Linked DNA regions of Homo sapiens. The protein of the gene in region 7 purifies or fractionates together with the protein of the main gene of each other region. This does not show direct contact. Each region holds a gene or a part of one and is shown on either strand. Other genes may lie near its edges. The genes, in order: ACAA2, ZC3HAV1L, DDX3X, ANXA2, USP19, CUL2 and EWSR1.

Region 1 (3,500 bases), on a different chromosome or scaffold from region 7:
CCTCTTCCTTCTTTAATCCAGTGTCTGAGGAGTTTTGACTGTGGCTCGTCCTGCTACACTGTGATGTAAAGCCATTCTGGTTAGACAACTTTCTTGTTCTCTGATGCTTCACAATGCTAGAAACATATGTTGAGAACTAAAATCCTTCTTCTATGTGCTGGAGTATATTGCCTAGTATTAGAATAAAAGAATCTCCAAACTAGAAGGTGCCTTAGGGTTGTCTGAGGTCAACCACTCACTCTATAAGAACTACCTCTAAAAATTCCTGACAAAAGGTTCTCTCTAAACCTCTGCCAGGAAACTTTCAGTAAGAGGGCATACTCTACTGCATGAAACAGTGTGCTGGTCATGGACAACATAAACTAATGATATTGCTTTTTTTTTTTTTTTTTTGGAGACAGAGTTTTGCTCTTGTCGCCCAGGCTGGAGCGCAGTGGCGCGATTTCGGCTCACTGCAACCTCCGCCTCCCGGGTTCAAGTGATTCTCCTGCCTCAGCCTCCCGAGTAGCTGGGACTACAGACACCCACCACCAGGCCCGGCTAATTTTTGTATTTTTAGTAGAGACGGGGTTTCACCATGTTGGCCAGGCTGGTCTTGAACTCCTGACCTCAGGGGATCCACCCACCTCAGCCTCCCAAAGTGCTAGAATTACAGGCGTGAGTCACCCACTCCCGGCCCCAACGAATGATATTTCTTTATATTGAACTAACTCAGCTTACAAAGTCTTCCATCCACCAATTCTAGTTCTCTCCAAAAGCACCAACACAGATAGAGATGTAGTTTCTAGAATATATGCTGCTACCGGTTCTAGAGTCACAGGATGACTCAAGTTACAGACTTCAAATAAATAACCTGAACTATTATCTTTTACTCTTAGAAAAAAAATGGGCAAAACAGGTTACCTTCTACATGTGTATCCCCCACCTCCAGTATCTGAAGTCAGCTAACCTGTAAGTCCCCAAACCTAGTGACTCTCATCTCAGGTAAATTAAAGGCATTCTTTCAATAGTTTTTTATTTGACATTAATTCTGACTGCTTTCCTCTAAAGACACTGTAGTTTGCCAACATCCTATTAAAATGTGTCCCTTAGAATATAAGAATATAACAAAAATAGCATGCATTTTATCTAATCACAAAGAATAGAGGAATTATCTATACATCTACTAATACAAACTAAGACTATAAATTTGCAGCATCACTATTAGTTAAATCGGTGTCCTTGTACAAATAAATAAAAATCACCCCTTCCCAATCACCTACTACCATCTGCCAAAAAAAAACTTGTGACTATACAAATATATGATTATGATGTGAGTGGTACCCACTCATCATCATTAGAGCTGTACAGTGCAAAACCGGCATATCAGTAAGCAGCATCAGTTATAGCCATTTCATCATATTGACATTCATTAGGTGTCTACTAAATACTAGACATTTTATCACTTTCCACACAAAAGCTAATCTTCCCAGCAACTCTGCAAGGTAAATATTATAGCTAACATAGAGGGGACACTTACTATGGAATAGACTTCATGCTAGCACTTTGCATATACTAACTTTATTCTCTCCAAGACAATCTAAGCTCACATTTCCACATCTTGTCAAGAAATTATGGGACTTTCGGCAATGGGTTTGTGATAAGATACTGATCTACAAATGAGACTATTCAAGCATTATACCACTACTGGTATCTAAGTATAATCTTCCAGTTTATGATCTCTTTCATCAAACAAACCAAGCCTAGCCTAAAATATTTCTATTTCAACCTCTCTTTTCATTCCTATTTTGAGAAATTTGCAGTTTAAAGGAATATTAGGAGCAATATATATAACTATAATTTAGAACAGATCCACTCAGTTTTTTACAGATACAAATTCAGATAGTTACAAAAGGCCATAAATACTAGTCGAGTGCATTACAAACGTTTTGTTCTGGTAAATTGGTTATTCTGTACCATGATGCCTTCCTGAATCTTTTCAAGTTTCCTTTCATCCTCCTTCCTTAACAGTCTCTGCCTATTTTTATATCAGTGTTTTCTTTTTTTTTTGAGACAGTCTTGCTCTGTGCCCAGGCTAGAGTGCAGTGATGTGATCACAGCTCCCTGCAGCCTCGACCTCTGCAGCCTCGACTTTCCCAACTCAAGTGATCCCCCTGCCTCAGCCTCCCAAGTAGGTAGGACTACAGGCATGTGCCACCACACCTGGCTAATTTTTACCTTTTTTTCTTTTTTTTTTTTGTAGAGATGGGGTCTTGCTATGTTTCCCAGGCTGGTCTCGAACTCCTGGGCTCAAGCAATCCTCCCACCTTGGCCTCCCAAACTGCTAGGATTATAGGCATGAGCTACTGCACCTGGCCTATCAGTGGTTGCTTTATTTCATTCTTCTTTCCTCTTTCCATGCCTTCTTCCTAATTTCATTAGTTCTGCTTCTGGTCATGGCCTACTATGCTCCTATCTGACCAACCCTCCAACAGATAACAATGAAAAACTCCAGACAATATATAAGAACAACTACTACCTGACGGTCTTGGAAATGAACAAAACTAGACAGGTAAGGAGAAGAGTTGATACTTAGAGGAAGGGAACAGAACAGGGTAAGTGTCCAATTTATTTATAGCAACTAACTTGAAGACTAACAGTCCATGATGCATGGAATGGCTAGAACTCAGAAACAGTCTTACTGGCTTGAAGAATCAGAGAATAAAATTCATGGTAAGCACAGCCACTAGAAAGTGAATGAGAATCTGGGAAAGAGGAGCACCATAGAGCGAGATTCCAAATTTCACATATAAACTCTGCCCAAATATTTGGCTGACTCCTTAGCCATTCATGTGTAGGTCAGACCACAAGCACCTAAGCCAAGCCTTAAAAAACTGAACTTAGATTTAAGCTGCTGCCCACTACAAGGGGAGACATAGTTTATCACGGGGGTGCATGGGGGTGATTTTGTAGGCAAAGTAACTGTCTACAAAAAATAAATAGCCAACCAATCAATAAGTCAGTTCTGTCTGCAGGATTATAACAGAATCCAGTCTCCACAATGTTCCATCTGCAATATTCATAATATAATTCAAAGTTAATCCACATATGAGGAAACAAAAAATATGACAATCAACAGAGACCAATCCCAAGAAGACCCAGACACTGAAATTAGCAGACAAGGATTTTAAAATAGCATTCTATTACAACTATGCTCAAGGATGTAGAGGAAAATATGCTCCTAATAAAACATAGGACATCTCAGTAAAGAAATACATACTATAAAAATCCAAAATGGAAATTCCAAAACTGGAAAATACCTGAAATAAAAAATTCCCTGGATGGGCTTAACAGCAAAATAGAAATGAAAGGAGAAAAATTCAGCGACTTTGAAGATAGATAAATAGAAATTAACCAATCTGAAGAACAGATGAAAAAAAAAAGATTAAAAAACAAAGCCAGAACCTCAAGGTCTGACAAAGGAGGAAAGGCAATTCACTGGAAAAAGGATCGTCTTTCCA
Region 2 (3,500 bases), on a different chromosome or scaffold from region 7:
ACAGGCTTTGGGGACAGAGGGCAGTTCAGCTGAGAGTGTAAAGTAAGAGGGGGCAGCTGTGAGTCACAAGCAGCCAGTGCCCACAGCAGCGGGAGTATGGTTAGCACCACTACACTATCATCAGGCTTTCCCCCAAAGATTTTAACAGCCACTGGTGATCAGAAGATGTCATTTAGTCTTCAGTTTAGCTAGAGAAGCTATAGTCTTTTGGCTTAAAAGATAGAGTGAAAACTAATATTGGCCGGGTGTGGTGGCTCACACCTGTAATCCCAGCACTTTTGAGAGGCTGAGGTGGGCAGATCACCTGAGGTGAGGAGTTGGAGACCAGCCTGGCCAACATGGTGAAACCCCGTCTCTTCTAAAAATACAAAAATTAGCTGGCTGTGGTGGTGAACGCCTGTATTCTCAGCTACTCGGGAGGCTGAGGCAGGAGAATTGCTTGAACGCGGGAGATGGAGGTTGCAGTGAGCCAAGATGGTGCCACTGTACTCCAGCCTGGGTGACAGAGCGAGACTCCATCTCCCCGCTGCCAAAAAAAAAAGAAAAACTAATATTTCAGGTGTTCCCTCATTTCTGTACCAGGTCTGTTTGCTCTACAACAAAGGGGAAGCCCTGTATGGCTACTGCAACCTCAAGGATAAATGCAACAAGTTTCATGTGTGCAAATCCTTTGTGAAAGGAGAATGCAAACTTCAGACCTGCAAACGGTCCCATCAGCTTATCCATGCTGCATCTTTGAAGCTGCTACAGGACCAAGGACTGAATATTCCAAGTGTTGTTAATTTTCAGATAATCTCCACCTACAAGCATATGAAGCTGCACAAGATGCTTGAAAATACAGGTAGGAATATCCAAGAAGGACAGAGAAGTATCAGCGATATGGTTTTGCGATGCTTCACTGTGAAGAAGTAAGAACAGTGACATGAAAGTGAGTCTGGGGGCAAAGCAGTTCCTATGTTAATTTCATCTTTGTTCTTGGGAAAGTTTAGAACAGGCAACATTGTATTGTATAGAACGGTGATCCTAACCAAAGGAGAGAAGGGATGGAGTTTATCTTTAGCACTGTCACTGCTAGCTACTAGAATCTACCCAAGTGATTGAACAGTAGCTTGTTGGTAAATTGGATGTCAGGAAGTAGGTAGAACAGGTTTTGTTTTTGTTTTTTTTTTTGAGACAGAGTCTCAGTCTGTCGCCCAGGCTAGAGTGCAGTGGCGCGATCGGGGCTCACTGCATCCTCTGCCTCCCGGGTTCAAGCGATTCTTCTGCCTCAGCCTCCCGAGTAGCTGAGACTACAGGCATGCGCCACCATGCCCAGCTAATTTTTGTATTCTTAGTCGAGGCGGGGTTTCACCATGTTGGCCAGGATGGTCTCAATCTCTTGACCTCATGATCTGCCTGCCTTGGCCTCCCAAAGTGCTGGGATTTCAGGCATGAGCCACACGCCCGGCCTAGTAGAACAGTTTTAATGGCATAGTTAGGAAAAAGAGGAAGGAGATGGGCCGGTGAGTGGAAAAGTAAGATTAATGTAGGGATGGCTTTCTTGTCATAAATATAATTTTTGGCTTTGTTAATTTTTAAGTAATTTTAATGACATTACAGAACAATTTGGAAAATAGCAACTGGAAATGAAAATTGTATATGATTTTGCTCACTCTAATCTACTATACTTGTTACAATTTTATTATAGGCCCTTCAGTTCTGTTATATACAAACACGAATCCAATTGTGCTCAAAGTATATGTTAATTTAATATCTTAAATTTCTACTTTATACAACATCATATTTTCCCATATTGCTAGGAATATTGCATATTCCCATTATAAATATATTCCCATAGTCTTTCAGTAATTTTTATTGTTGTTTTTGAAGACAGGATCTTGCTCTGTTGCCTAGGCTGGAGTACAGTGGCACAGTCATGACTCACTGCAGCCTCGAACTCCTGGGCTCAAGTGATCTTTCTGCTCAGCCTCCCTGGTAGCTGGGACTGCAGGCACATGCCACCATGTCCAGCTATTTTTTAAAATTTTTCTTTTGTAGGGACAAGGTTTTGCTATGTTGACCAGGCTGGTTTTGAACTCCTGGGCTCAAGCAGTCCTCCAGCCCTGGCCTCCCAAAGTGTTGGGATGACAGGCGTGAGCCACTGCACCTGGCCTTTAGTAGTTTTTTAGTCTACAAAGTGTGGTTTGGTGTTCTTTTAATTCTAATGCATTCAGTTACTTATTCTGTTACATTTGCTGGTACCTAGAAATCAGTGGGTGGTAGGCTTAGGAGAATTGCTGTTGGGAAAGGTAAATCACCAAAGGCGGAGTTGCTAAGCTTTCACCATCGAGTTTTCATGTGTTGGGATGTTAGTGTCAGACGTAGTGAGTGCAGACAGGGAGGGCTCTGCATATACCAGTGTCGGGCTGTTTAGGGAACTGTGAATGGTGGCAGGTACCTTCTACCCTATGCTGTGTCTAGGGCCTGTCATTGTCTTCATCTGGTTTCGTTTGGTGAGTCTCTCCTGTGACATAGTGACTTTCCGCTTGCTCTCTCTCTCTCTATTTTTTATACACACACACATACAATTTTTTAAAATCCAGAAGACATGAACTCTCCAAATCCATGTGTTGGGAGTCTTGTCTGATGGCTGGTTAGCTGGGCTGTTGCTCCCAACGTAAAATGAAACTTGGGGTATCGTAGGAAAACTTATCCCTTTCCTCTTTGTAGATAATTCATCACCTTCGACTGAGCATTCACAAGGCCTTGAGAAGCAAGGAGTGCACGCAGCTGGAGCTGCAGAAGCTGGTCCTCTGGCTTCTGTCCCTGCTCAGTCGGCCAAGAAGCCCTGCCCAGGTAAACCTTAAAGGGGGTCAGTGAACTAAGAAGAAGCTTGTCCAGCTTGGAAGATCTGAAAACAAGCCTTCTGTTTAGCTTTAATTTGTAACCATTCATTCATTTAATGATAGATTTGTAATGGTCATAATAATATCTACCTCACAGTGTCTTGCGAGAAGTAAAGAAGATGGAAAAGGAGAAAATGTCCTTTTGGAAGAATACATTTGGGCATGGGTGGTTGGGGATGGGGTGGGACATTGAACAGGCAAAGAGAGGCTAAAATTGAGTGCAGATGGGGCTAGTCCAGGGCAAGTGCTGAAGATGGCAGCTGCTATCTGCAGCTCCTAGGTGCTTTCCTCAGGCTGGGTAGATGGAGCTCTGCTGACTTCTGTGGTCCACCATTGTTTTTCTATCAATTTATATTGTGGCAATCCTAGAGTACTTTGCACTCATTTTTTTTTTTCACTTAATATTGTCTCATAAGCATCTTTCTATATTTGTTCACATCGTACATAATCATGTTTTTGCACAGATACATTAATATTATCATAGTTTGTTTAACTACTTGGCTTTTTCTAACAGTTTTTTTTTTTGAGATGGTCTTGCTCTGTTGCCCAGGCTGGAGTGCAGTGACGTGATCTCGGCTCACTGCAGCCTTGACTTCCTGGGCTCAAGTGATCATC
Region 3 (3,500 bases), on a different chromosome or scaffold from region 7:
AAAAAGCTAATAATCACTGGAACTCATACTTACTTTTCTGGCTTCCTCGTAGATCTGTACTGCCAACTCTCTCGTTGGTGCTAATACCAAGGAGATTGGGTATTGTTTGCGGCGCCCATACCTTCCATTTTCCTAAGAAATAAGTTAATTTTTAAGTTAACTCTACCTACCCTGTTTGAAAAGTTCATCACAACATAATTCCCTTTTGTAATTTATAGATTACAGATTACACTTGAAAACTGGTTTTCATTCTACTTAAGTCTTAGCATCATTTAGAAAGCCCTCTCAATGGCCACCTACAAAGTTCTACAATTTCCCATTTTATAAAGAAACATCTACCTTCATGGCCCTCAAAGCCTCGCCTGGACCATCTGAATAAATCTGACTCAAGATGGGCAACAGAAATGCTGCAGTTTTTCCAGACCCTGTTCAAAAACAAACAAACAAATCCTGCTCATTACTTTTAAACAGACATTGGTAGATGACAGTGTTTTTTAACTACCCTATTACTAATAATTAGTACTTTTAGTTTATGCTTAAGTTTTCCAAAAAGTGGCTTCTCTGCTCCACCTCTAAGAGGAGTCAGCAAACTGAGACTATTTTGTAAATAAAGCCTGTTATTTTTATAAATAAAGCTCTTACGGAATACAGCCGTAACCAATAATTTATGTATCATCTATGGCTTCTTTCACAGTCCAATAGCAGCGCAGAGCAGCTGCAAAACTGCATGACCCATAAAAAATAAAATATTTTATTGTCTAGTCCTTTACAGAAGAAATATGATGTTTTACTCTTATGAGTTGAGCTTACCTGTTTGGGCACAAGCCATCAAGTCTCTTTTCTCTTTGATAATAGGAATAGCATGCTTTTGCACTGGAGTTGGGCGAGTATAACGAGTAAGCTCAATGTTTCCCATGATAATTTCTCCCATCTCAACATCACTGAACTGTTAAGAAATTCAATGGGGTTAGGAATGCTATCTAGAGCTATTTCTGTTTTATACTAATAATGGAAACAACCAACCAACAGCTGATTGGTAACTCAGTTTATAGTTTAAGTAAAATTATCACATTATACTTTGAGAAAAACCAACCCCCAGGCTTACTGCACATTGGAGAAGACTTTGGGTTGTTCCTATGTTTGACCCATTTTCTATTTTAGGTAATAAATTATTCATAATGGTGACACTGAACTCAACTTCTCCTTTTCCACAAATCTATGAAGCCTCTGGTCTACATGACTTTATGAAGCCCATCTCACATTCTAATGTAACATGAAAACATTTAACCTCTCTGTGTCTTAAAAAGTCAAGCAAAAATACTCACACTTTCAATATGTGGAGGACAGTTGTTGCCTGTTGCCTCAACTGGAATGTCATCGTATTTCTCAAAATTAATCCCAGTGTTGCCTCCAGAAAAGAGTTCCCTCAAATCAAAAAATGGATAAGTTCATTTGTTATACTAGCTAGTAAGGCTTCATCACAAGTAACATACACTTCAAAAACTTACTGTTCCAAGCGTTCACTTGGTGGGAGTGGTTTTGACCAATCATCTTCATCTGATTTGTCACACCAGCGACTGTTTCCACCACGTTCAAATTTGCCAAAGCCACTTCTGTCACCACGGCTGCCAATGCCATCGTAATCACTCCGTCCACGATCATCAAACCTGAACAGCACAAGCAATTAATCAGAATCATATCATTTAACCATTATCAGATTCTTATCCCTACTCTAGAACTGTATCTGGAGACTTAAGTTATGGCTAACCATAAGGATGTCAACAATCCAATTCTGAGTTACTTGACAAATAAGGCTCTCTAACCAGCATCATTTACATAACCTCGTTTTCTAAAATCAGTAATCTTTACATTTCTATAAAGTTGTATAGCCTAAAAGGCCTCACAGATGCCAAAATTAAGAATAAGGATTTTATTTGAAATCGGCACACAGCTCACAACCTTCATTTAAAGTGCTCATCCAAATATATTTAATGGTAGGGAAAACAAGAAAATAGCACACCAAATATCAATCGTCCTAGTTATACTAGGATGTCACTTAAAGGACAATTCACCTGTGTGACAGACTTTGGATAAAAGGTAGAAAATAATCCTTACCTGAACTAAGATGTTTTTAAGAGTTTTAGGCCTGTTTGCGAAAAATCAGGACACAGGACTAACCACAGCTATTAGGCACGTGGGGTCAGTTCACCACACTTGTGTAATCAAAAATACAAGGTGTTTAGAAATTGTTATAGAGTCCACAAAAATCCCAACCAAATTAGGCCATTCACTAGATGAACTTACTCTTTTAAGTAGAACATATAAAACTCGAGAAATAGAATAACTCATTTCATTATGCCAATGAGCATATTCCTATTTTCATCTAATTTCTAAGTAACAGGTTCAATTTAGTAAAAGCCTCTTACGGCTAAGAAAATACAATGACCAAACAGACATAATGCTTAACATCCAAACAGGTGGTCAGGATAACGACTTATTAAACTGTTATTATACATACACGTAAGGTGATTAAGAAATCACTTACCTTCCCCTTGATCCACTTCCACGATCACTGAAGAAGCTAGACTTCCCTCTTGAATCACTACGAGATCCAAAACTGCTATACGCATCCTTATCTTTGCTAGAACTCCACCCTGAACTGTCTTTATCGTAGAAACCTTTGATTAAAAAAGCACAAATACATTTTATTATTAATTAGAAATAGGAACCATGTTAAGGTATTATCAATCTTTCTGAATTTGAAAGCCTCCACTGACTATCCCTACCATGGCACTGTAAGAGAACCAAGATTTAAAGCTGGTTTACACCCGGACAAAGTTTTTCTTTAATTCTCCCCACTAGAAAATACTGTCCACTGGCCAGGCATGGTGGCTCACGCCTGTAATCCCAGCACTTTGGGAGGCCAAGGCGGGCAGGTCACCTGAGGTCAGGAGTTCGAGACTAGCCTGACCAACATGGAGAAACCCCGTCTCTACTACATATACAATATTAGCCAGGCGTGGTGGCCCACGTCTGTAATCCCAGCTACTCAGGAGGCTGAGGCAGGAGAATCACTTGAACCCGGGAGGCTGAGGTTGCAGTGAGCCAAGATTGCGCCACTGCACTCCAGCACGGGAAACAAGAGTGAAACACCCTTGTCTCAAAAAAAAAAAAATTACTTTACACTAAATCAAGCAATCTGACAGTCTAAGAATGTTTCTCAATGAATACTACCTCTAAGTGGTCAACAGCTTTGCCTGTAACGCATTATGACGTTGTGTGACCATAACAATTTAATTTCCATTCATTTTATAGGTGTGAATGAGTTTACTAGGAAAAACAGTTACCATTGTTTCCATGTTTCTTGGAGGTGGTATTCATTTAGAACATTCATAGACTGTCAGATTACTTGGTTTAATACAGTATTTTTCAGTTTCAATAGTATAAAGTACAAGAACACTAATGTCAAATTGTAGTATTATTTTAGTGGTTCATCTACT
Region 4 (3,500 bases), on a different chromosome or scaffold from region 7:
GGGCTGACCCCCCCACCTCCCTCCCGGACGGGGCGGCTGGCCGGGCAGAGGGGTCCTCACTTCCCAGTAGGGGCGGCCGGGCAGAGGCGCCCCTCACCTCCCGGACGGGGCGGCCGGCCGGGCGGGGGGCTGACCCCCCCACCTCCCTCCCGGACGGGGCGGCTGGCCGACCCCCCCCCCCCCCGCCTCCCTCCCGGACGGGGCGGCTGGCCGGGCAGAGGGGCTCCTCACTTCCCAGTAGGGGCGGCCGGGCAGAGGAGCCCCTCACCTCCCGGACGGGGCGGCTGGCCGGGCGGGGGGCTGACCCCCCCCACCTCCCTCCCGGACGGGGTGGCTGCCGGGCGGAGACGCTCCTCACTTCCCAGACGGGGTGGTTGCCGGACGGAGGGGCTCCTCACTTCTCAGACGGGGCGGTTGCCAGGCAGAGGGTTTCCTCACTTCTCAGACGGAGCGGCCGGGCAGAGACGCTCCTCATCTCCCAGACAGGGTCGCGGCCGGGCAGAGGCGCTCCTCACATCCCAGACAGGGCGGTGGGGCAGAGGTGCTCCCCACATCTCAGACGATGGGCGGCCGCGCAGAGATGCTCCTCACTTCCTAGATGGGATGGCGGCGGGGAAGAGGCGCTCCTCACTTTCCAGACTGGGCAGCCAGGCAGAGGGGCTCCTCATATCCCAGACGATGGGCGGCCAGGCAGAGACGCTCCTCACTTCCCAGACGGGGTGGCGGCCGGGCAGAGGCTGCAATCTGGGCTCTTTGGGAGGCCAAGGCAGGCGGCTGGGAGGTGGTTGTAGCGAGCCGAGATCACGCCACTGCACTCCAGCCTGGGCACCATTGAGCACTGAGTGAACGAGACTCCATCTGCAATCCCAGCACCTCGGGAGGCCGAGGCTGGCGGATCACTCGCGGTTAGGAGCTGGAGACCAGCCCGGCCAACACAGCGAAACCCCGTCTCCACCAAAAAAAAACGAAAACCAGTCAGGCGTGGCGGCGCGCGCCTGCAATCGCAGGCACTCGGCAGGCTGAGGCAGGAGAATCAGGCAGGGAGGTTGCAGTGAGCCGAGATGGCAGCAGTACCGTCCAGCTTTGGCTCGGCATCAGAGGGAGACCGTGGAGGGAGAGGGAGGGGGAGGGGGAGGGGGAGAGGGAGAGGGAGAGGGAGACTCAGCAGCAATTGGATTTCTATGTTTACCTTGGCTACTCTAAAAATGAGAGCTAAAGTTATAGATGCTACAGTTAAGATAGCAAGCATATTGGTATGGACTTGCTTTGAAATGAGCATATACATTTTAAAAAGTTATTTATTTTTATACCCAGAAATTCTAACTTTATACTTTTTGATCTAACACACTTGAGAATTCAAAATACTTCCTCTGTCAATCTGCTGTTTGTCTTTGTCTCAAGCGTTACAGTTTTGACCTTTCTGTTTCTTCAGGACTCCTCTGATTTTCTTCAGGCCAAGCCATTTGTAGTTTGCAAGTGACTTTGTAGGTTTAGCAACTCTACTCTCTCACCCAAGAGTTACCTATCCAGTTATGGCAAAGACTGTTTCTTTCATTAAACAAAGTTATTAATCAGTCAGGAGAGAGACTTTTCACATTCTGAATTTACAAACTGTGCTTTCTTAAGTTAAATGGCATGTTAGGAGTATTTCTGATATGAAATTGGAAACTTGCAGACACCAGAAGGCATTGCTTATCTTTGTAAATACACATGTTCCAATTAAAATAGGTACTAAAATATTTTGGTGGCACCTCAAAACTCCCAATTTAGATTTAATTTAGATTAAAACACTTACTCTTTTTAATAAAGTTATAAAATTAATTATTAAAATTGCCTATTGAAGATTAAAGGCAGTGGAACGTTTATTTTCCTTACAAAACAATTTTGTCTTCAATAAGTGTGATTGTGTTAATCAATTATGCTATTAAAAATACAACTGCCGTGTTAAATCTGACTCATTTGTCATGACAGTTTTTATAATTATAGAAATTATACCTAGCTGCTTATATAGCCATAATCCTGCAATAAGTATAAATAATTATCTCTATTAATTCAGTTTGCAGTTACTCTCTATTAAATCCCGAGTTAAATGGCAATTTGGGGACCTTCATTTAAAATCCTACTAAATCTCTGTTGTTCCATCTGACTGCCAAAGCCCCACATATGCACCTCCTACTGTTGATTCCAGAAACCAATTTATGAATAAAATAGTTTTTAAACCACAAGTATTTAAAAGGTCCATTTAAGCTTGAGGTTTGAGGCTCTCAAGAAAAAAGGAAAGAGAGTGTACACATTGGGTAGAGGATGCTGACGAAAGAGATAGAACAAATCTTGGTGTCTGGGTATTTCAGTTTGGAAAACAGTATATAAATTTCAGTTTGAAAAAGTCTGCTTGACACCTTCTATGTAAGCCCAAAATACTAGAGTATACTGAGTAACGATTAACAACTTGTATTTCCATAGGTGTGGATGAGGTCACCATTGTCAACATTTTGACCAACCGCAGCAATGCACAGAGACAGGATATTGCCTTCGCCTACCAGAGAAGGACCAAAAAGGTACAGGCAATTCCAGGGATGGAGGGCATTTCTTGTTGAATTTTTGTTTCCTCAGACATTGCTTTTTCTTTTCATGAATTGTGGCTCTCATGCGCAAAAGACTTGTGGGACCCTTGGATATCTAAGATTTTCTTCTTAAATCCTTGTAAGAGTCACTGCACATGTGTGTGTGCGTGTGTGCACGCGCGCGTGCACCTCAGGTCATCAGGCATTAGGTTCTCATAAGGAGTGTACAACATAGATCCCTCGCGTGTGCAGTTCACAGTAGGGTTCGCGCTTCTGTGAGAATCTCATGCCACCGTTGATCTGAGAGGAGGCAGAGCGCAGATGGTCACGCTCGCTTTAGAGTGCTTGGGAGCTCCTGTGTAAGGACAGTACCCTCCCCCAACCCAGGCTACCTGGAGGGAGAGCTTCTGGGAATAGAAAGTTAGGAATAGGGAACAACAACAATAACAACAACAGGCACCATTTATTGAGTGCTTACTTTGGGCCAGGCACTGTGCTCAGTTTTGTACATGTAGCAACTCATTTCATCTTTATGACTTCTGCTGGTTCTTGATAAGATGTTTCTAATTTAATTTTAGGATACTAGCCTCCACTGAGTGTTGATCCTAACAAGCTCCTCTCATTTTAAAAATATACACTTGAATTCTTAAGCTTTTTGCAACGAGTGGGCTTAGTTGTTAGTTCATTTGGTCTGCAAAGCTATCTTCAACATGCCATGCTCCTACTATTTAAAGGGTCTTTGTGTGCTTTTTCCCTTTGCTTGTCCACTAGTGGTTAAGAAACAACCAGTGCGTGTTCGTCCTTTATTTTGTCAGTTGTAGGAAATTTTATTTTTAAGGACGTGCTGCTTTATTTTTAACTTCTTGCTATTAAAAGCTTTTGATTTATTCTTGGACAGTGCAGTAAGTGTGGCTTCCTGCAGCTCCCGTTTGACTT
Region 5 (3,500 bases), on a different chromosome or scaffold from region 7:
CTTGGAGGCCTCACGGTGCTGTTTGCACTGTGGGCAGTACCTGGTGGGGACAGAGATTGGGTCAGGACCAGCAAGTCTCTCTCTTCTCCATCCTGCCCCCTTATCTACTTGCTGCTCTGTTCTCACCAGGCCTCCTCGGGTGCCAGCACCTCAGGCCGTGTGAAGAGGTTGAGGCACTGGTCCAGGGTGAAGTGGCCGGCCCGGGCAGCCTCACCGGCAGAGCCTGGATCCTCAGCACATTCCAGCTCCTTGGAGGCTACCAACACAAACTCCTGCAAGCGCTCATTGTTCCGCCAGACGAGAGCCAGGCTACAGTCGTCACCCAGCTCCAGTGGGGTGTCTCCTGGAGATTCGCAGGGAGAGAGGTCATGCAGCTGTGGAGAACAGCCAGCTCAACCCACCCCATGGCTCCCACCCACAGCCTCAGACACCTTTGTCCTCTAGCCGCTGCTCTCGGTTGGATGAATCAATTTTATAGATGAAGAACTGGGGTGTGTGGGCATTCATAGCTTCACTTGGATGCTGGTACCCAGGCACAGCAGCTGTGTGAGAACATGATAATCAAAGCTTCCCTGCCCATCAGGGCCTCACCAGGCCCACCAGGCCCTAAACAACAGCCCCCTCCATCCTCCCTTATCCTCCTCCCCAGCTTCTAGAGCCTTTCACTGGATCTTACCTTCGGGTCGGGACACCCTCTCGCCAGCTGGCAAGGAGCCAACCTCAATGGGCCCACTGGCCAGCATCTCAGAAGAAATTCCACTGGTGCTGGGCACAGGACCCCGGTCAGGGGCTGCCCACACCCGGGGAAGCCCTGTGTCCCCCTCAGCCATAGGGGTCACCAGCTGGAGCTCAGGTGGCTGAATGGGGTCTCTCTCGCTGTCCCCAGCCTCCAGGGAACCTGTGGAGAGCAGTGTGGTGCAGCCAGGGCTCTGAGACTCCAAGGCCATGCGGCCTGGCTGAAAGGGTGGCTGGAATACACTCACAGAGTACCTGGCAACAGAGAACAACGCAAGTAAGACTCCTGACCAGCCCATCTAGCACCTCTGCCCCCACCTACACCACTCTAGTCCAACCACTGGGCACTTACCGGGCATAGCCCTCTAGCAACTGAGCGAGGCGGGCATAAGTGAGGCGTGAGGCAGGTACACTGACCAGGAAGGGGTAGCCAATGTTCTCAGGTCGGCAGAGGCCCTTGTGGTCAGGCCAGTGGGTTTTCTGGCAGAGCCTGACGGGAAGAGGAAGACAAGGATAGGCCCTTAGCCCCATCTCCTATGACTCCATACTGGGGGCTAGTCATAGTCCCTGGGAACTGGGTACGCCAGCCCTGCCTCCCCCAGAGCCTGGTAAAGTAGGGTGGCAAGTAGAAAGCTTAAGCATATGTGCCTTGGTGTGAAGGGAAGGAGCAGGGTGGCACATGGAAGGTGGAAAGAAAGGGTAGGGGAGACCATGGGGGTCCTCACTGGTTGCAGTAGCCCACACGGTAGCACCGGGTACAGCGCTTCAGCTTTTCATCCTCCGACTGTTGCTTCCGCTGGCAGGCTGCACACTTGGAGATGGGGACGCTGGGCACCTGGGGGCGCTAGGGTGGGTCGTCTGGCTCAGCAAGACCAGGAAGAAGTGCCCCACCCACCAGGGCGCTGTGCCATCAGGTTGGCCCCCACTCACCTGTTGCACCTCTAGCACCACTACCCGCTCCTTAGCCAACTCTGAGGATAGCAGCTCAAAGCAGAGGAGCGTATCAGATGGGGACACAGTGTCCAGTGAGTGGGAGGGTAGGAACACACGATGAAAACGATTCTTAATTACCTGGGGACAGAGAACACACAGATCCCACGTGAGGATAAGCCCTTTCCCTAGCCCTGCCCCAGAGTTTAAGAAGGCTTGGCCCTGCCTTGGGTCTATGTGGGCAGTGGTGAGGTCTGTAGGCCCAAATAGGCTTATGCCTCTGCTGGCACCTGTCTCAGTGCCCAATGCCATAAGGAGCCTGGTGCATCAGAGGGCCTGAAAGACCAGGTGTGAGGCAGATATCAACCACACCAGCTCTCCACACTGAGGGACTCTGCCCTGCTATAACTAGCATAGCCTTATAAGACTGTAACATATTATCATGGAGGGTCCACATTCAAAGAGCCTCCTCCCCACTCTTACCCCTAAGAAAACCAACACTGTCAGGCTAAAGGCTAGGAACCCCTGGGGAGAGCTAGCACACACAACTGGGATAAAAGGAGAGAGCAGCAGGATAGAGGGAGAGGCAGAGCGAACATAGGGATAGTCCTGCAGCTCAAGCTCCTTGTCTAAAAAGGGAAATGCAGTTGGGATCCACCACCACAAAGGGGAATAAACCCTGATAATGGCTAGGAACTGAGGGCACTTCTGTTGCACAGAAAAAATAACAGCACATCGCCTGTTTTTGTACAGTCACAGGCATACTCATGTGTATGTCTATTTTTATTTTATTTTATTTTATTTTTGAGACAGAGTCTCACTCTGTCACCCAGGCTGGAGTGCAGTGGCGCGATCTCGGCTCACTGCAACCTCTGCCTCCCAGGTTCAAGCGATTCTCCTGCCTCAGCCTCCTGAGCAGCTGGGACTACAGACATGTGCCACCACGCCCGGCTAACTTTTCCTGTATTTTTAGTAGAGGTGGGGTTTCACCATGTAAGCCAGGGTGGTCTGGATCTCCTGACCTTGTGATCCATCAGCCTTGGCCTCCCAAAGAGCTGGGATTACAGGCATGAGCCACCACGCCTGGCCCTATTTTTATTTTTTTATCTATTTATTTATTTATTTTTGAGACAGAGTCTCACTCTGTCACCCAGGCTGGAGTGCTGTGGTGCAATCTCTGCTCACTGCAACCTCCACATCCCGGGCTCAAGTGAGCCTCTTGCCTCAGCCTCCCAAGTAGCTGGGACTATAACACGTACCACCATGCCCAGCTAATTTTATTTCTTGTAGAGACAGTGTTTCACCAAGTTGCCCAGGCTGGTCCCAAACTCCTGGGCTCAAGTGATCTGCCCACCTCGGCCTCACAAAGTGCTGGGACTACAGGCATGAGCCACTGTGCCCAGCCCATGTGTATGTCTGTAGATGCCAATGACTGTACACACGTCTGTGGTGAGTACACACACACATCCACACATGTGATAGCCCAAGGAAGGACAAAGATACCTCCGCCAAACGCAGGTTCTCAGGCTTCACATGAACACTCTGAGAGAGGGAGTCCAATACTTCGCTCGCAGTGGAGTTCTCCTTGCTGACGCTCACCAGGAACTGTGGCAAAAAGGGCAGTCAGTGAGGGAGGTGGGCCACGTTCTCTAGAACAGCCCAGAGGGTAGGGGCTTACTCCTCACCTTGATGGGCTTGCTGTGGGGCTCTCGGGCAAAATAAAAGACAGGGAGAACCTTTTGCTTTTGTGGCAAGGGCACCGGCAGATAAAGAAACGGGTCAAAAGTGATGGAGACCTGTGGATGTAGAGGTGGCACTGGGTAGCTGCACACAGA
Region 6 (3,500 bases), on a different chromosome or scaffold from region 7:
GCATTTATTTATTGGTATACTAATGTTTTGAACAAAAACTGTATTCACATGGCTCAAAATTTAAGATGTTAGTCTGGGCAACATGGTGAGACCCCATGTCTACAAAAAATAATTTAAAAAACATTAGCCAGGCGTGGTGGCGCACGCCTGTAGTACCCGCTGTTGGGAAGCTGAGGCCAGATGACCAGGTTGGAAGTGGCAGTGATCTGTGATTGCACCACTGCACTCCAGCCTGAGTGACAGAGTGAGACCCTGTCTCTAAAACAAACAGAAAACCAAAATATAAAATTGTCAGTAGGGAATAGAATGAAAATCTCCCTCCACTTCTTGTACCCTTGTCATCCAGCTTTCCTTGGAGCCAAACATTGTTAGCTGTTTCTTAGATCTCCTTGGAAAAAAATATTTGTGGACATATAAGCAAATATTGTTCCCACTTTGCAGAAACAGTAGTACACTTTACTTTGACATTTGTATTTTTTAGAGTGTTAAATAGTAGTTAAGTTATGAAATAGGATGAGAACACAGAGAATGTAGAAAGAGGATAAAACTGTGGAGTACTGCAGCATTTTCTGATTTGGTCCCTGCCCTTGTTAAGTTCATTTATTTATTTATTTATTTATTTTGAGATGGTGTTCGCTCTGTCACCCAGGCTGGAGTTTGTATTTTTAGTAGAGATGGGGCTTCACCATGTTGGCCAGGCTGGTCTCGTTAAGTTTTTGACCTACAGGTGTGGAGTTGTTTAAAAAGCTGTTTCCGGCCACGTACGGTGGCTCAGGCCTGTAATCCCAGCACTTTGGGAGGTTGAGGTGGGTGGATCACTTGAGCCCAGCAGCTTGAGACCAGCTTGGGCAACATGGCGAACCCTGTCTGTACAAAAAATACAGAAATTAGCCAGGTGTGGTGGTGCAGGCCTGTAATCCCAGCTGCTAGGGAGGTTGAGGTGAGAGGATTACTTGAACCCAGGAGGTGGAGGCTGCAGTGAGCCACTATACTCCAGCCTGGGTGACAGAACTAAGAGAGTTTCATTGTGTTGCCCAGGCTGGTCTCGAACTCCTGGGCTCAAACAATTCTCCCACCTCAGCCTCCCTAAGTGTTAGGATTACAGGCGTGATCCACTGTGCCCGGCCTTGTTTCTTGTTTCTTTTTTTTTTTTGAGACAGAGTCTCTCAGTCTGGAGTGCAGGGGCTCAATCTCAGCCCACTGCAGCCTCCACTTCCCGAGCTGGGACTACAGGCGCCCTCCACCACTCTCAGCTAATTTTTGTATTTTTAGTAGAGACAAGGTTTCACTATGTTGGCCAGGCTGCTTGTTTCTTTATTTTTATCTTTTTCAACTTTCATTTTAGATTCAGGAGGTACACACGTAGGTTTGTTACCCGGGTATATTGTGTGATGCTGAGGTTTAGGATACAATGATCCCGTCACTCAGGTGCTGAACATAGTACCCAACCGTTTTTCAACCCTTATGCCCTTCCTCCCTCGCTGTAAAAAGCTGTTTCTTTTTGTGAGACTTTACAAAAGTTTGCACTGTTTGTTTTGTGTTCTACCTTATCTGCCTGTTCTTTGTGTATTCTGGAAAAATGTCTGGCTGTGATTGAAAGCAATGTTTCATATGCACTATCAGTTTTTTTTTTTTTTTTTTTTTTGAGACAGAGTCTGGCTGTGTCTCTGGTTCCCGGGTTCACACCATTCTGCCTCAGCCTCCCGAGTAGCTGGGACTACAGGCGCCTGCCACCATGCCCGGCTAATTTTTTGTATTTTTCATAGAGATGGAGTTTCACCGTGTTAGCCAGGATGGTCTTGATCTCCTGACCTTGTGGTCCGCCTTCCTCAGTGTCCCAAAGTGCTGGGATTACAGGTGTGAGCCACACCGCGCCTGGCCCTAACAGTTATTTTTATTTTTATTTTTTTTTGGGACGGTGTCTCGCTTTGTCGCCCAGGCTGGAGCGCAGTGGCGCGATCTCAGCTCACTGCAAGCTCTGCCTCCTGGGTCTACGCCATTCTCCTGCCTCAGTCTCCAAAGTAGCTGGGACTACAGGCAGCCGCCACCATGCCTGGCTAATTTTTTGTATTTTTTTAGTAGAGACGGGGTTTCACTGTGTTAGCCAGGATGGTCTCAATCTCCTGACCTTGTGATCTGCCTGCCTCAGCCTCCCAGAGTGCTGGGATTACAGGTGTGAGCCACCACACCCAGCCAGTTATTTTTTATTATTATTATTTTTTGAGATGGAGTCTCACACTGTCACCCAGGCTGGAGTGCAGTGGCACAATCTCGGCTGACTGCATTCTCCGCCTCTGGCATTTAAGAGACTCTCCTGCCTCAGCTTCCCAAGTAACTGGGATTACAGGCGCCCACCACCACCCCCAGCTAATTTTTTTGTATTTTTAGTAGAGACGGGGTTTCACCATGTTGGCCAGGCTGGTCTTGAACTCCTGACCTCATGATTCACTTGCCTCGGCTTACCAAAGTGCTGGGATTACAAGTGTGAGCCACCAGGCCTGTCCAACTATCAGTTGTTTTTAAGTAAATTGATGACAGGATCAGCCCTAGAATCTTAATATTATGAGGACTTATGACTGGCTCATGTTAAATCTTGGAAAAACAAGCAGCGATTTGGAATGTTATGAGATTTATAACAAGTTATTGATCTATGAGATGTATGACTGAACCCTCTCTCAGTAATCAGTTAATCACAATATCTATTCAGAGTGATTTGGCTCTGTGCCTGGGTTTGAATCTTACTGGTAACGTATCTGTCATATTGCAGTTAGCATAATCTTTGGGTTACCTTTAAGAATGTATAGATTTCTATATCAGTACTTTATATTTGGCTTTTCATTGGGAAAGGCTTATTGGAGACAATCCCTTTGATTCTTAAAAGTTTTGAGACAGTAGTAGTGTTAGGTTAAGATTGTGGTGTTGGATCTGTAGAAACTTCCGGGGTGCCTTGAACCCTGTTGATTTTTCTTTTGGAGGAGGAGAGGTGGAATATTTCCTTTTGCTTTAAGCTTTGTTATTCTGGAGAATTAAAAATTCAGACTGATACTGTGTCTTGTTTGCTTGTTTGAGACAGAGTTTCACTCGTCACCCAAGCTGTAGTGCAGTGGCGCGATCTCAGCTCACTGCAACCTCTGCCTCCTGGGTTCAAGTGATTCTCCTGCCTCAGCCTCCCAAGTAGCTGGGACTATAGGTGTCTGCCACCACACCTGACTAATTTTTATATTTTTAGTAGAGATAGGGTTTTGCCATGTTGACCAGGCTGGTCTTGAACTCCTGACCTCAAGAGATCCGCCCTCTTTGGCCTTCCAAGGTGCTGGGATTACAGGTGTGAGCCACTGTGCCTGGCCTCTTTTATATAGTTTAACATTATAAATAATGTTAGTTACATCTATTAATTCAGTGACTTAGTCTTTCTCTATTGTAGGTTGCTTTTCAAAGAATGAAACATGGATTTGCCATATGTAAATTTTTAAAAATATCTCAGCCTTGTTTTAATTCAG
Region 7 (3,500 bases):
ACTGCCTTTAAAAAAAAACTAAATTTATCTAACTTTAATGCAGTAGCGCTCTGAAAACTATTTTCCGTTTGTTTTTACTACTTGTAGACACCTCAGTGGACCAGTTTTTGGTCCCTTTGGATGCATGTTATAAATTTCATAGGAAAAGGAAAATTATAGGGAGGTTTACTTAGATAAGGGATGAAAATTCATGTCTTTTTTTTAAGTTGAAATCATTTTGAGTTGTATGAAAGACAATGGTGTTACCAAATTTTTCCCAGAAAGACTAAATGCTTTTTCTTCTTTGCCAGTCTTCAGGGTTCTGCCTTAGCTCTGCTTCACCAGGGTTTATAATATATCTAGCTTTTAAGTTGCTGCACAAATATAGTTCTGACACAGCAAACCCTTTAAAACACTGGAGTGTGGTGACTGCCTTCTTGTCTGCCATTCCGTTTCACTGTCGTTGAGCTAGGGAATGATGGTTTGTCTAACTTGCTAAAGTGAGGGGAGTGAAAACTAATTTTTGAGGAGAGGTAGGTTCTAACGTAACCAATCTAGTGTTAAACTTTGTATTATTGTTGCATGCCTCCGTTTTATATGAGGGTAGAAACTTCTGATCCTGTTAGTAGATCTTGTTGTCAGTCTGTGATATTGATGATCATCCTGTATTTTAAATGACAGTTGGGATTGGGATGGGTTTTGTGGTCATGGGAACATAAAAAGTATACCTGCCAAATCAGCTGATCTTGACCTCATTAGCTAGTCCCACAGTCAAATGTTGAGTTTAACTGGTTTAGACTTTTTTTTCTGTTAGATGTTGAGAGGTAAGGGGGACTCATTTGGACCTGTGTTGGCAGGTCTCCCTACAGTTTAAAGAATTCTTCCTGCCACGTGAATTCTTTCCCCCTTTTTTCTCTTCTCCTTGTTTCTGCTAACTTTACACTATTTTTCCTCCTTGTTTTCCTCTAGATTACAGTACCTATAGCCAAGCTGCAGCGCAGCAGGGGTAAGTCAGTCTTTTATAACCGTATTTTGTGTGTGATTAATATTTTTTGAATATGGAGCCTTCTATAATTGTAGAGGTGGTATTTGAATGTTCTCTATTCAAGTTATTGCATTTAATTCTTTTGCAGCTACAGTGCTTACACCGCCCAGCCCACTCAAGGATATGCACAGACCACCCAGGTAATCTTTAAAATAATTACATGTAGCTGCACCTCCAAGTAAAATCAGTATATTATCCAGTTATCTTTCAGTTATCCAGTAAAACAAATGAGTAATGTGTTTGGAATAGTAAAATACCCAGGCATTTTAAACTTTCACAGTGGGAGTGCGAAGGACTCCATTGTGCCATCATAAATGAAACCATTCAGAAGCTGATAATTGACTCTTTATAACTTTTTAATATGATTTCTCAAGTTAGGTGCCCTGTTCCATGCTTGGTCCTTCTTCATTATGTTTAAATTTAGTGAATTTATTCATCATAGCAATTCTGCAAAGGAAGAGGATGATATGACCATTCTGCAGAGGAGAACATTGCAGTGCATAGATATTAAGTAACTTGCCAGTGGTTGCACAGTAAGTGGCGGGGTTAGCTCTAAAAACTGGCGACCTAGCCAAGGAGCTGCTGAGCTCTTTCCAGTGAAGAGTCTGTTGAAAAGCCTAGGCCAACAGATTCTAGAAATTAGCCTTCTAGTGTTTTCAAGATAATGTTGAATTCTGAAATGATCCATGCCATAAAATGGATACTAATAACTGCCATGGAAACATGTTCTAGGACAAGCAGAATGTGATGTCTCTGGCAGATCTTACATAACTGGTCATTTAAACAAACCTAGAGAATAATCATGCTAATATCTGAAAGAACAACTCTTCCTTGCCTGATTTTAAGTATTATGGATGTCTAAGTTCAAAAGACAGTACTCTTGATGTGCCCACCATAAGAGGACATACAGCGTTCTGGTTCATTTTCTTTGAAGTGGTATAGTAGTTTTAAAGTCTTTTTGTCAGGCTGAAAATCTGGTTTTCAATTTTTTCTGACAGATTTTAGCCCTCTTCATTGCTTTCTCTGTTCATTTGTCTTCGTACCTTTTGTTTCCAATCACTAAAACTGTGCTACGCTAAGTGCTAGCAGTTAATACACCTGTGCCCTTATTGCTCTTCCCTTGAGAGTGTCTTGTTAATCTCATGTATAGTTAACTGAGGTTTTGCCTGATTATCTTTTTTTTCCCCCTTTTGAGAAGCTGTGAATGACATTGCCTACTTACCTAATGAGCTTTTTCCGTAGCTAACTTTACCATAATATGAGTGAACCAGATAAGGGATAACATTCATGATACTGTGATTATTTGTCTTGTTTTGTTGTTTTTGTTTTGTTTTTTTAATCTTCTAGAAAGGAATGTTTTTGATTTTGGTTCTCCAATTTAGTCCATTTTATTGCTAAAATACAAAAGTTCATGTATGAAGTTCTTGCATTCGTTTTTTTTTGGAGCAGGCATATGGGCAACAAAGCTATGGAACCTATGGACAGCCCACTGATGTCAGCTATACCCAGGCTCAGACCACTGCAACCTATGGGCAGACCGCCTATGCAACTTCTTATGGACAGCCTCCCACTGGTAAGGCCTGCCTTGGAGAGATTTTTGGGTCGTTCTGGCTAGGGCATTGGCTAAGAAGCTTATTAGTCATGCTTTCGGATGTATATTCTGGTCCATACCTTGGCATCTGGGGAATCCTTTATTCTTAGGAAGAGGTATTTTTTCTCTTTCTTCCCTACTCTTATAGTCTTGAGAGATCTCCAATAGAATGTGGGTGGGATAAATTCCAAGAGAGAAAAGAACTTTTAACTGTTTGAATAATCTCACGATGAAATGGAGACTATGTAAAAGATTTTGCTAATGCTAATACTGAGTAAGAATGAGTCTTCTTAAATTGAGCTGCTTAAAAATCAAACTGGTTTTCACATGTTTGCTTCATCTGATAGTGTACCCTCTACTTTTTGTTTTGTGCTTTCCACAGTAGAAGGGACCAGTACAGGTTTGACTATCCTGCTCATTCTTGCATGGGAAATGCTTTCCATCTTGTCTAACCCTGTAATGTTAATCCTTTAGGTGTTTTCATTTGTTGAACCCCCAAACTTTCTAACATCACACACAGCAAGGTGCTAATGAAAAACTGCTTCAGGTGCCATTTGCAGATCCATGTCCTATTCTTTATATGATTTTGGGAAAGGTTTTTTTATTTAATATTACTTTGTTTCAAGCCTTAATAATAGTTATTTACCTTCCCAAAGGTATTTCAGGTGATTTCTCCCCAGCTGATTTTCCCCTGTTCCCTGAAGGATAGATTGCATGATGAGATTTATTTAGAGGAGCAGACTGCCACCCTGCATGTATCATGTTTGTCTATTGGTTGGTTTCTAGTCCAGACACATTTTATTTTCTGTTTTAAGTGTTATGAATTATTTTAATCCATGGTATGTCTTGAATATATATAACATTATTCCAAGATACTAAAAAATA

What was found.
Region 1: the proteins of EWSR1 (region 7) and ACAA2 fractionate together in Homo sapiens (co-fractionation; one large-scale study listed by BioGRID). This does not show direct contact.
Region 2: the proteins of EWSR1 (region 7) and ZC3HAV1L purify together in Homo sapiens (affinity purification with mass spectrometry, with the first as the bait; one large-scale study listed by BioGRID). This does not show direct contact.
Region 3: the proteins of EWSR1 (region 7) and DDX3X purify together in Homo sapiens (affinity purification with mass spectrometry; 2 studies listed by BioGRID, with this or other methods). This does not show direct contact.
Region 4: the proteins of EWSR1 (region 7) and ANXA2 purify together in Homo sapiens (affinity purification with mass spectrometry; 2 studies listed by BioGRID, with this or other methods). This does not show direct contact.
Region 5: the proteins of EWSR1 (region 7) and USP19 purify together in Homo sapiens (affinity purification with western blotting, with the first as the bait; one study listed by BioGRID). This does not show direct contact.
Region 6: the proteins of EWSR1 (region 7) and CUL2 purify together in Homo sapiens (affinity purification with mass spectrometry; 2 studies listed by BioGRID and IntAct, with this or other methods). This does not show direct contact.

Annotation. Positions count from the first base shown.
Region 1 is NC_000018.10:49,803,534-49,807,033, forward strand, and holds part of ACAA2 (3-ketoacyl-CoA thiolase, mitochondrial), read right to left. Parts: intron 1-3,500. UniProt on the Homo sapiens protein: In the production of energy from fats, this is one of the enzymes that catalyzes the last step of the mitochondrial beta-oxidation pathway, an aerobic process breaking down fatty acids into acetyl-CoA.
Region 2 is NC_000007.14:139,026,043-139,029,542, reverse strand, and holds part of ZC3HAV1L (zinc finger CCCH-type antiviral protein 1-like), read left to right. Parts: intron 1-582; coding exon 583-841; coding exon of another isoform or gene 842-912; exon of another isoform or gene 913-928; intron 929-2,709; coding exon 2,710-2,835; intron 2,836-2,982; coding exon 2,983-2,999; 3' UTR 3,000-3,500.
Region 3 is NC_000023.11:41,340,662-41,344,161, reverse strand, and holds part of DDX3X (ATP-dependent RNA helicase DDX3X), read right to left. Parts: intron 2,679-3,500; coding exon 2,546-2,678; intron 1,668-2,545; coding exon 1,509-1,667; intron 1,426-1,508; coding exon 1,326-1,425; intron 947-1,325; coding exon 811-946; intron 426-810; coding exon 340-425; intron 133-339; coding exon 34-132; intron 1-33. UniProt on the Homo sapiens protein: Multifunctional ATP-dependent RNA helicase. The ATPase activity can be stimulated by various ribo-and deoxynucleic acids indicative for a relaxed substrate specificity.
Region 4 is NC_000015.10:60,363,487-60,366,986, reverse strand, and holds part of ANXA2 (annexin A2), read left to right. Parts: intron 1-2,463; coding exon 2,464-2,558; intron 2,559-3,500. UniProt on the Homo sapiens protein: Calcium-regulated membrane-binding protein whose affinity for calcium is greatly enhanced by anionic phospholipids. It binds two calcium ions with high affinity. May be involved in heat-stress response.
Region 5 is NC_000003.12:49,110,824-49,114,323, forward strand, and holds part of USP19 (ubiquitin carboxyl-terminal hydrolase 19), read right to left. Parts: intron 3,462-3,500; coding exon 3,351-3,461; intron 3,271-3,350; coding exon 3,169-3,270; intron 1,807-3,168; coding exon 1,666-1,806; intron 1,580-1,665; coding exon 1,461-1,579; intron 1,226-1,460; coding exon 1,088-1,225; intron 991-1,087; coding exon 677-990; intron 543-676; coding exon 432-542; intron 344-431; coding exon 127-343; intron 41-126; coding exon 1-40. UniProt on the Homo sapiens protein: Deubiquitinating enzyme that regulates the degradation of various proteins by removing ubiquitin moieties, thereby preventing their proteasomal degradation. Stabilizes RNF123, which promotes CDKN1B degradation and contributes to cell proliferation.
Region 6 is NC_000010.11:35,083,842-35,087,341, reverse strand, and holds part of CUL2 (cullin-2), read left to right. Parts: intron 1-3,500.
Region 7 is NC_000022.11:29,271,268-29,274,767, forward strand, and holds part of EWSR1 (RNA-binding protein EWS), read left to right. Parts: intron 1-948; coding exon 949-985; intron 986-1,112; coding exon 1,113-1,164; intron 1,165-2,470; coding exon of another isoform or gene 2,471-2,473; coding exon 2,474-2,597; intron 2,598-2,997; coding exon of another isoform or gene 2,998-3,015; intron 3,016-3,500. UniProt on the Homo sapiens protein: Binds to ssRNA containing the consensus sequence 5'-AGGUAA-3'. Might normally function as a transcriptional repressor. EWS-fusion-proteins (EFPS) may play a role in the tumorigenic process.